Linked DNA regions of Homo sapiens. The protein of the gene in region 2 purifies or fractionates together with the protein of the main gene of each other region. This does not show direct contact. Each region holds a gene or a part of one and is shown on either strand. Other genes may lie near its edges. The genes, in order: TRMT61B, NT5DC2 and SIRT4.

What was found.
Region 1: the proteins of NT5DC2 (region 2) and TRMT61B purify together in Homo sapiens (co-immunoprecipitation; one large-scale study listed by IntAct). This does not show direct contact.
Region 3: the proteins of NT5DC2 (region 2) and SIRT4 purify together in Homo sapiens (co-immunoprecipitation; one large-scale study listed by IntAct). This does not show direct contact.

Annotation. Positions count from the first base shown.
Region 1 is NC_000002.12:28,863,676-28,867,323, reverse strand, and holds part of TRMT61B (tRNA (adenine(58)-N(1))-methyltransferase, mitochondrial precursor), read left to right. Parts: intron 1-2,204; coding exon 2,205-2,307; intron 2,308-3,648.
Region 2 is NC_000003.12:52,523,797-52,527,430, forward strand, and holds the end of NT5DC2 (5'-nucleotidase domain-containing protein 2), read right to left. Parts: intron 3,580-3,634; coding exon 3,498-3,579; intron 1,500-3,497; coding exon 1,413-1,499; intron 1,308-1,412; coding exon 1,167-1,307; intron 1,086-1,166; coding exon 1,021-1,085; intron 936-1,020; coding exon 674-935; 3' UTR 591-673; downstream 1-590. Other genes in the region: STAB1 (stabilin-1), read left to right, coding at 75-221, 304-417, 504-560. UniProt on the Homo sapiens protein: Promotes dephosphorylation of tyrosine 3-monooxygenase TH which decreases TH catalytic activity and leads to reduced synthesis of catecholamines including dopamine, noradrenaline and adrenaline.
Region 3 is NC_000012.12:120,308,684-120,312,331, forward strand, and holds part of SIRT4 (NAD-dependent protein lipoamidase sirtuin-4, mitochondrial), read left to right. Parts: intron 1-3,648. UniProt on the Homo sapiens protein: Acts as a NAD-dependent protein lipoamidase, biotinylase, deacetylase and ADP-ribosyl transferase. Catalyzes more efficiently removal of lipoyl- and biotinyl- than acetyl-lysine modifications.

The DNA.
Region 1 (3,648 bases), on a different chromosome or scaffold from region 2:
CAGAAGTTTGAGACCAGCCGGGGCAACATAGGGAGACCTTGTCTCTACAAAAAATAAAAAATTAGCCAGGTATGCTGGCACACACTTGTGGTCCCAGCTACGCAGGAGGCTGAGATGGGAGGATTGTTTGAGCCCAGGAGTTTGAGGCTGCAGCGAGCCATGATCTTGCCACTGCACTCCAGCCTGGGCAACAGTGTAAGATCCTATCTCAAAAAAAAAGTGAGGGGGCAGGTGCCGTCACTCACACCTGTAATCTCAGTGCTTTGTGAGGCCAAGGCAGGAGGATTGCTGGAGGCTAGGAGTTCAAGACTAACCTGGCCAACATAGCAGGACCCCATCTTTATAAAAAATAAAAAAAAAATTAGTTGGGCATGGTGGTACATGCCTGTGGTCCCAGCTACTTTGGAGGCTGAGGTAGGAGGATTGCTTGAGCCCAGAAGTTCGAGGCTGCCGTGAGCTACTATTGCACTACTACACTCCAGTCTGAGTGACAGAGACCCTGTCACCAAGAAAATTTGTTTACTAAATTTAAAAAAACAGTTTTTATTAATATCATCCGTAATATTTGTGTTAACAAAAACAATTCCAATTATATGTTTGGCAAGTGGGTCCTCCAATCTAGTAATAGCATAGTCTCTTTTTTTTCTTATATAGCAGGGCTCCCCTACCCCCAGGCTGAGGACTGGTACCAGTGTGTGGCCTGTAACAGGGAACCGGGCCACACAGCAGGTTAGCGGTGGGTAGTGAGCATTACTGCCTGAGCTCCATCTCTTGTCAGATCAGCCATGGCATTAGATTCTCATAGGAGTGCAAACTCTTGTGAACTGTGCATGCACCAGATCTAGGTTGCATGCTCCTTATAAGAAACTAACTAATGCCTGATGATCTGAGGTGGAACAATTTCATCCCAAAACCATCCCCCTCTCCCCAGTCTGTGGAAAAACTGTCTTCCACGAAACGGGTCCCTAGTGCCCAAAAGGTTGGGGACCGCTGTTATATAGTATCTTAATTCTAAATTAGAAGTTCATCATTTGGCCAGGCACGTTGGCTCACACCTGTAATCCCAGCACTTTAGGAGGCCGAGGCGGGCAGATCACCTGAAATCAGGAGTTTGAGACCAGCCTGGCCAACATGGTGAAACCCCATCTCTACTAAAAATACAAAAAATTAGCTGGGTGTGGTGGTGGGTGCCTGTAATCCCAGCTACTTGGGAGGCTGAAGCAGGAGAATCGCTTGAACCCAGGAGGCGGAGCTTGCAGTGAGCCAAGATTGTACCACTGCACTCCAGCCTGGGTGACAGAGCGAGACTCTGTCCCCCCAAAAATAAGAAGTTCATCATTTTGAGCTGGGCACACTGGCTCACACCTGTAATCCCAGCACTGTGGGAGGCTGAGGCGAGCGGATCACCTGAGGTCAGGAGTTCAAGACCAGCCTGGCCAACGTGGTGAAACCCCATCTCCACTAAAAATACAAAAATTAGCCGGGCATGGTGGCAGGCACCTGTAATCCCAGCTATTCGGGAGGCTGAGGCAGGAGAATCGCTTGAACCCGGGAGGCGGAGGTTGCAGTGAGCCAAGATCGTGCCATCACACTCCAGCCTGGGGGACAAGAGTGAGACTTCGTCTCCCAAAAAAAAAAAAAAAAAAAAAAAGGAAATTCATCATTTTATGCAGAGATTATATAGTAAATTCCTAACTGGTCTTCCTGCCTCTTGATTTTTCTCCAGTAGATCCTGTATTCTTCTGCCAGATTAATCCTCATAAAATGCCATTTATATCACCTCAGTGACACACCCTAGTTGCTTATCAGGCTGAGTTCTAATGCCTCATACTGGCATTTAATTCTCTGCCTATCTCTCCTGAGATAACAAACTGGATTTATTCTACCTCTGCTTTGTTTAAAGCTGTTTTTACCTTGTGATTGTTCCCATAAATTGTCTACTCTTTGTCTTTAAACTAGGCCATCCTGCTACTCTATGAACTTATTGTCTGTAATTTTGGTATTATTCTGAAGTGTTGCCTTATTTGTTAATTGATTCTTGGATCTCTTTTATTTCATCAAGTGAAATATAAACTGAAGGCAGGTCCAGAGTCTGATTCGTTTTTTCACTCCCTTCTTCTGCACACCCAACAATGTAAGATAAGACTAGGTGCTTAGTACATATTTATTGGTCGCTGAGTCACCCATACTGTTTTCAATCATAGGATATTAATATGATTCTCTCAATGATGGATATCAACCCAGGTGATACTGTTTTGGAAGCTGGCTCAGGCTCTGGTGGAATGAGCTTATTTTTATCCAAAGCAGGTAAGAGATTGGACTGAGCTGGATCTCAGTAACAAAGAAAACATTCAATTTGTTCATAATAACAGAAAGGTATAAAGATATTTGGGAAAATACCTAACATTGAGGTAGCATTCTCCTAGAATCTGAAAGTAAGCAACTATTTTTCTTTCCATTCTGTACATTTATTCCAGTCAGTCTCTTTCTAATCCTCCCTCAATTTTCTTTGCTTTGTTTTACTTTCTCCATGCTCTCTAATGCTGCTTCTTTTTTCTTAAGTATACTTTTTATTGGAATATAATATGGCTACAGAAAAGTGTGCAGATCATAAGTGTATATCTCAATGAATCTTTGTATAGTGACCACTCATGTACTTATTACCGAGATCAAGGTAGGGAGTGTCCCTGCCCCACAGATGCCTCCTCATGTCCCCTCCCAGTCCTTATCATCACCAAAGGAAACCACTATTGTGACTTTTATCATCACTGATTAGTTTTGCCTCCTTCGAACTTATATAAAATGGAATCATACAGTATGTGCTCCTTTGTATCTGGCTACTCTCATTCATTATTATGTTTGTGAGATTCACTCATTGCATGCAGCAGTAGTTCTTTCATTTTAGTTGCTGTATAATACTCTCTATTTAAATCACAATTTACCTATTTTACTGTTGATAGACATTTGAGTTGGATATTACAAATAGTGCTGCTTGGAACCTCCTTGTGTACTTGTCATGTTATTGTTGAATACTAGTGCCAGGTGAATACTTAGCCTGAGGGAATATGGAAGGACGTTGTCAGCTGTTGGGGGGAGAGTTATATATCGTTAGGGCCAAAGAATTATAGTAGGTGTTCATAAAGAAATTAATCATAGTACAGAGCTATTAAGTAAAAAGCTAGATCATGAAGAATTATCTTTTTTTTTTCCAGAAAGTCTCTAAAAATTGTCAGTTGGTAAAAGTACTGCTTGAAGGTGGGTGTCTGATCAAAAATCAAGAGGTGTATATTAAACATATATATTTTTTCATGTTCCTACCACTTAATTTCTAGTTACTTTTATGCTAGTTGATTAGTACCTCTTTGCCTACCTAATTTCTCTGAGTGTCAGGGTTGCTTTGGGTGGTCTGTCTGTGCAGTGTTCTCTTCCCTACATAATACTAGACTGCTGAATAGTCACAGTACTTTCTTTGAGTAGATTTTATAAAGATTACAGATAGAAATATGCTGAAATTAAACTCACACCTTTTGTTCTTTGACCTAATGTCTTCACATATGAATATTATCTAGATTATACTAAGCCGGTAAATTCATTCTGGGCTCCTCAATCAATCTTTTGTTTGACTTTTCTGTACATAGTTAAAGGCAG
Region 2 (3,634 bases):
CCCACAACCTGTGAGCCCGGGGAAGGTGGTGGGACAGCTCCCGCCAGGTCAACACTCTCCCTGTTTGTTTGTAGCAGGCAGTGCTGGCGCCTGAAGCCCCACCTGTGGCGGCAGGCGTGGGGGCTGTGCTTGCCGCTGGAGCACTGCTTGGCTTGGTGGCCGGAGCTCTCTACCTCCGTGCCCGAGGCAAGCCCATGGGCTTTGGCTTCTCTGCCTTCCAGGTAGGGCTGGGTTGGGGCTGCCATGGCGGGTCCTTGGATCTCGCTTGAGGCGCCTCGCCACTCACCCCTCTGCTGCTCCCAGGCGGAAGATGATGCTGATGACGACTTCTCACCGTGGCAAGAAGGGACCAACCCCACCCTGGTCTCTGTCCCCAACCCTGTCTTTGGCAGCGACACCTTTTGTGAACCCTTCGATGTAAGCATGGAAGTGAAGAAGTGTGGCAGATGTGGGATGGGCCCAGGCCCTGGTCACACCCTCCACCACCAACCCTGCTCTTCTAGGACTCACTGCTGGAGGAGGACTTCCCTGACACCCAGAGGATCCTCACAGTCAAGTGACGAGGCTGGGGCTGAAAGCAGAAGCATGCACAGGGAGGAGACCACTTTTATTGCTTGTCTGGGTGGATGGGGCAGGAGGGGCTGAGGGCCTGTCCCAGACAATAAAGGTGCCCTCAGCGGATGTGGGCCATGTCACCAAGGAAGGGGGTCTTCATGCAGCCGGTGCAGAGCTGGTCCATCCAGAGGGGTGCCTCGTGCTGCAGCGGCGTACGGCGTGGGTAGAAGGTGAAGTCCACGCGGTAGTTGAGCAGGCAGCTGAGGGAGGCCATGTAGAGGTCAGAGAAGCGCACGAGGCGCCTTGAGAAGTAGGTGGGGTTGTGGAAGGTGCGGAAGATGCTGCCGAACTGCGCATTGAACAGGGCCTTGGTGATGCACCTGGCGAGGGAGACACGATGCGCTCAAGGGGTGGGCCTGGGGTGGTGGCTTGGCTGGGACTCCTGCCCTGGCCCCACCTGCTCACCTCAGCTCCTGCCGCTCTTTCATCCAGGCAGCCAGCACCTGCCTCGACTCCGCGTCCTGATAGGTCTGGGGACACAAAGTGTGCATTGGGTGTGTGCACCCAGGAGGCTACCGCCCTGGCCCTCCCACAGCCACCCCGGCCCACACCTGCATGCGCTCCAGCAGCCCCGTGAGCGCCTGCTGCCACGTCAGCGAGTGCATGTACTGCTCCGTGTTGATGATGCGGATCTCACGCTCCAGCTCGGGGATGATGGCGCCTGTGCGCCAGCCGTGCCGCAGCATGAGATCCTGGTGGGTGGGGCGGCAGAACTGGGCTCAGCGCCAGTTGCTGGGGGCGGGGGGGGGGGGGTTTCCTGGCCCTCCCCCACTGCAGCCCAGCCCTGCCTCCCTCACCGCCAGATCACTATAGAGGTGGTCCCCGAAGTAGAGCACGCGGGGGCCACGCCATTCCGTCAAGCGTAAGAAGTCAAACAGGTTTCCCTAGGGAGAGGAGGGGAATGCTGCTGAGCCAAGTGTGCCTTGTCCTCCACCAGTCCTCCCTCCCGAATCCCCAGAGGCAGCCCAAATCCAGCCGGATGCTGGCTGCCCTTTCCCATGGCCTTGCTGCTCCCTCCCTGGGCCCTGGTTCTTGTCACTTTCCCCTCCTACTTGGGAAGGGGATTCTGCCTGCTGCAGGAAGGTGCCCTACAGGCCTGGCATGGTGCCCATGCCTCGAGGGCCTTCTCCCTGTGGTCTCACACGTACCCCAGGTTAGGGATTAGATCCCTGTTTGTAAGGTAGAAACTGCAGGGAAGGCTCTGCAGCCCTGAAGTCCTTGCTGGCCTCCCCTGCCTCAGTGCAGAGGGACCTGGCAGACCAATGGCAGACCTCACCGGGGCCACCAGCATCTTGGAGCCAGAGAAAGATGGAGACACTCAGCCAGGCCCACATGTAACTGGGGAAGCTCACAGGGTGGCAGAAACTGAGCGGCCCAGAGCAGGAATCACCAGACTAGTGCTCAGGCAGCAGCCACCAGGGTAGGAGTCCACACCCCAAAAGCGAGAATAATTGACACCCAGCAAGCACAGTTCTTGAAGCAGTCTGTGCATTCCAAGCCTCAGAAGTGGAAGCGCTGGGGGAAACAGGTGGTGTGGGAGAAGCCAATTGCTGAACTAAGTTCAAGTGGAGGGGCAGAGGCCCAGGCAGGCCCCAGACCAAGAGAAAGAGTCTCAAAGGGCAGGAGACTGACAGACTCCTAGTGACTGACAGGCAGGATCCAACACACAGTGGAAAGCAGCTTCAGAATACTGGGCATAAAGAACTGCCTGAAAGCTGCCAGGGAAGAAAGTCATGTGTTTCTCACAAAGGTGTATGACCCTCTTTAGCTGAGGCTGGATGCCAAGGCAGGGGAGAGCAGCGCCCTCAGAGCTGAAGGGACGCACCTGGGCCCGAGGGCTGTGGAGAGTTTGGGTGCGGAAGGGTGGGAGGCAGAGAAGTGGGCAGGGCTGAGAGGGTGGGGGTGTTTCCTGCAGGCCAGGCTGGGCATTGGCCACCTCCACATTGCTCCCCTGGCCAGCTGCTGGCTTCCCCCTCCTCCAGCCCCAAGGCCTTTAGAACCCCTAGCCTGAAGAAGCCCAGCTCAGCCAGGATTTCCGCATTCCAGCCAGGGCTAAACCTTAATCACTGCCTGCTCATAGACACCTAATCCCACCTCAACACCAGTCCCTCTCATTTTCCTAGCCAGGTAGGAAGGAGGAGTTTCTCTAGATCACCCAGTGAGCTGCCCCCAACCAGACTTGTTCTGGCTGCAGCAGAGTGCTCAACCCCAAGAAATGACACCATTCATCAGGCATTTCACGATCTCTGACCATTCTTGTTTTTTGAAGACAGGGTCTTGCATTGTTGCCCAGGCTAAAGTGCAGTGGTGTGATCACAGCTCACCACAGCCTCGAACTCCTGGGCTCAAGTGATCCTCCCACCTCAGCCTCTGGAGTAGCTGGGACCACAGGTGCATGCTACCATGCCCCGCTAATTTTTTCTATTTTTAGTAGAGATGGGGTTTCGCCATGTTGGCCAGGCTGGTCTCAAACTCCTGAGCTCAACAAACTATCCTGCAGCCTCAGCCTCCCAAACTGCTGGGATTATAGGCATGAGCCACGGTGCCTGGCGCACTGGCCATTCTGAGAGCTTTATACCACAGCTTCAGTAGAGAGTATTACACCTCTTTTGCAGACAAGGGAAGCAAGGCACAGAGGTCAGGCAACCAGGCCAGGCTCCCTCTGCTGAGTAGTGGAGTTAGGAATTCAAAGCCAGGCTGCTTGACCCAGAGGTCAAGCTCTCGAGGCCACCCAGACCTGCTCCCTGCCAGCCATTGCCTGTGTGAGGCTGCTCAGGGCCAAGGAGCTGTGCTGCTTCTTCAGAGGCTGCCTCTGCACAGCCTGGGGCCCTAGCTAGGCCCCATGCCCCCACCACATGCTGCTCTCCCCAGATGGCCCTTACCTGCCGATAGATCTTGCCCTTTTCCAAGCGGGTGATCCGGTCCCACTGAAGTGAGCCCTTCTCATCGAGTTTTCTGAAAGGCCTGGGGTGCAGGTAAAGGGCATGACTTCCAGTCTGTGGCTGGGCCACGGGCCGGG
Region 3 (3,648 bases), on a different chromosome or scaffold from region 2:
GCAGTTGGGTCTGCTGTGAGACACCAAAGGGGTTTATTAGTGGTTTCTGAGCAAGCAAGCAACATGATAAAAATAGCATTTGAGGAAGGCTAAACAGGATTAAAAAGAGCAGGTCAGGGAGGTCAGCCTGAAAGACCTAGACTAAGGTGGTATCCAGGGAATTTGAGTTAATGATGCTTATGGATTCATTAAAACAATTTTTTCCGCCGGGCGTGGTGGCTCATGCCTGTCATCTCAGCACTTTGGGATGCCGAAGCGGGTGGATAACCTGAGGTCGGGAGTCAAGACCAGCCTGACCAACATGGAGAAACCCTGTCACTACTAAAAGTACAAGAACAACAAAAAATTAGCCGGGCATGGTGGCACATGCCTGTAATCCCAGCTACTCGGGAGGCTGAGGCAGGAGAATCGCTTGAACCTGGGAGGCGGAGGTTGCGGTGAGCCAAGACTGTTGTGCCATTGCCCTCCAGCCTGGGCGACAAGAGTGAAACTCTGTCTCAAAAAAAACTCACAATTTTTTTCATGAAGAAAATCTGTTCTTTTAATAATGAAAATTTCAAACTTCACAAAAGTAAAGAGAATTGTATAATGAATTCTCATATACCATCACCCAGATTCCAAGGTTTTATCAAGATTTTGTCATGTCTACTTTATCCATTCTGTCTCTTCTTAAGCATTTTAAAACAATCCAGGACTTCTTGACATTTCACAGGGGCCTTTTTTTCTTTTCTTTTTTTTTTTTTTTTGAGACAGAGTCTCACTCTGTCGCCTAGGCTGGAGAGCAGTGGTGAGATCTTGGCTCACTGCAACCTCCACCTCCCGGGTTCAACCGATTCTCCTGCCTCAGCCTCCTGAGTAGCTGGGATTACAGGCATGCACCACCATGCCCGGCTAATTTTTGTATTTTTGGTAGAGACTGGGTTTCACCGTGTTGGGCCAGGCTGGTCTCAAACTCCTGACCTCAGGTGATCTGCCTGCCTTGGCCTCCCAAAGTGCTGGGATTACAGGCATGAGCCACTGTGCCCGCTTTCTTTTTTTTTTTTTTTTTTTGAGATGAAGTCTTGCTCTGTCACCTAGGCTGGAGTACAATGGCATGATCTTGGCTCACTGTAACCTCTACATCCTGGGTTCAAGCAATTCTCCTGTCTCAACCTCCTGAGTAGCTGGAATTACAGGTGTGCACCACCACACCCGGCTAATTTTTTTGTATTTTTGTAGAGACAGGGTATCACCATGTTGGCCAGGCGGGTCTCAAACTCCTGACCTCAACTGATCCACCCATCTTGGCCTCCCAAATTGCTGGGATTACAGGTGTGAGTCACCGTGCCCGGCCTGGCCTTTTTTTCTTTTTTAGACAGGGTCTGGTTCTGACACCCAGGCTAGAGTGCAATGGTGCCATCATAACTCCCTGTAACCTAGAACTCCTGGGTAATTAGAACTCCAGCTAATTAAAAAATTTTTTTTGGCTAGGCGTGGTGGCTCACGTCTGTAGTCTCAGCACTTTGGGAGGCCGAGGTGGGCAGATCACAAAAATTAGCTGGGCGTGGTGGCAGGCGCCTGTAATCCCAGCTGCTCGGGAGGCTGAGGCAGGAGAATCGCTTAAGCCCAGGAGGCGGAGGTTGCAGTGAGCCGAGATCGCGCCATTGCACTCCAGCCTGGGCGACAGAGCAAGACCCCGTCTCAAAAAACAAAGACAAGCCAAAAAAATTTTTTTTGTAGAGAGAGCGTCTTGCTGTCTACCCAGACTGGTCTGGAACTCCTGAGCTCAAGCGATTCTCTTGCTTTACGCTCCCAAAGTGCTGGGATTACAAGGTGTGAGCCACCATGCCTGGCCACAGGGGTTCTTTTAAGAGAAGAAAATCAACATAATCTGATGGCTGACTAGAACTAAAAGGAGAAAAATGAGGCTGGTTGTGGTGGCTCACACCTGTAGTCCCAGCACTTTGGAAGACTAAGGCAGGAGGATTGCTTGAGCCTAGGAGTTCGAGGCTGCAGTGAGCTATGATCATGCCACTGCACTCCAGGTAAGAGCCACCACGCCTGGCCAAGACCCTGTCTCTTTTTTTTTTTTGAGACGGAGTCTCGCTCGTTGCCCAGGCTGGAGTGCAGTGGTGCTATCTCGGCTCACTGCAAGCTCCGCCTCCCGGGTTCACGCCATTCTCCTGCCTCAGCCTCCCGAGTAGCTGGGACTACAGGCGCCCGCCACCACGGCCGGCTAATTTTTTGTATTTTTAGTAGAGATGGGGTTTCACCGTGTTAGCCAGGATGGTCTCGATCTCCTGACCTCGTGATCCGCCCGCCTCGGCCTCCCAAAGTGTTGGGATTACAGGCGTGAGCCACCACGCCCAGCCTGACCCTGTCTCTTAAAAAAAAAAAAAAAAAAAAAAAAAATAGGCCGGGCGCAGTGGCTCATGCCTGTAATCCCAGCATTTTGGGAGGCCAAGGCGGGCAGACCACCTGAGGTCAAGAGTTCGAGACCAGCCTCAACATGGAGAAACCCCGTCTCTACTAAAAATACAAAATTAGCCGGGCGTGGTGGTGCATGCCTGTAATCCCAGCTACTCGGGAGGCTGAGGCAGGAGAATTGCTTGAACCTGGGAGGCAGAGGTTGCGGTGAGCCAAGATCGCGCCATTGCACTCCAGCCTGGGCAACAAGAGTGAAACTCCGTCTCAAAAAAATAAAAAATAAAATAAAAAAATAAAAACAGACACAAAGTGCTCTCCCTCACTGGCTCAAGCTCTGGTGATTGGAGAGGTGAGAAGGGGGGCCAGGTGCAGTGGCTCACACCTGTAATCCCAGCACTTTGGGAGGCCAAGGCAGGCGGATCACCTGAGGTCGGGAGTTTGAGACCAGCCTTACCAACATGGAGAAACCCCGTCTCTACTAAAAATACAAAAAAAATTAGTCGGGTGTGGTAGAGCCTGCCTGTAATCCCGGCTACTCAGGAGGCTGAGGCAGGAGAATCGCTTGAGACCAGGAGGTGGAGGTTGCGGTGAGCCAAGATCATGCCATTGCACTCCAACCTGGGCAATGAGAGTGAAACTTGCTCTCAAAAAAAAAAAAAAAAAAAAAAAAAAAAAGAGGTGAGAAGAGAACCAGGAGACACTGTGTCCTGGAAACCAAGAAGGAGAAGCATTTTAGAAGGAATGGTAATAGACAGTGGCAAATTCAGCAGATGAGCAAGGGAAAGTATAGAGGGAAAAACGCAGGTTTGGGCATTAAGGAAATCAGCAGGCAAGGCATTTGCAGTCATGTTAAGGATAAAAGTGAGCTATAGCAGAAGGTTAGGAAGGAGTGTATAGGAAGGAAATTGATGGGCTGGGCGCAGTGGCTCACACCTGTAATCCCAGCACTTTGGGAGGCCAAGGAGGGAGGATCACTTGAGGCCAGGAGTTTGAGACCAGCCTGGGCGACACAGTGAAACACCGTCTCTACCAAAACTACAAAAATTAGCTGGGCGAGATGGCGCGTGTTTGTAGTGCAGTCCCTGCCACTCAGGAGGATGAGGTGGGAGGATAACCTGAGCCCAGGAGGTTGAGGCTGCAGTGAGCTGAGATCGTGCCACTGCATTCCAGCCTGGGCAACAGCCAGACCCTGTCTCCAAAAATAAAAAAAATAAAATAGAAAGTATGGCTAAAATGGGGTGG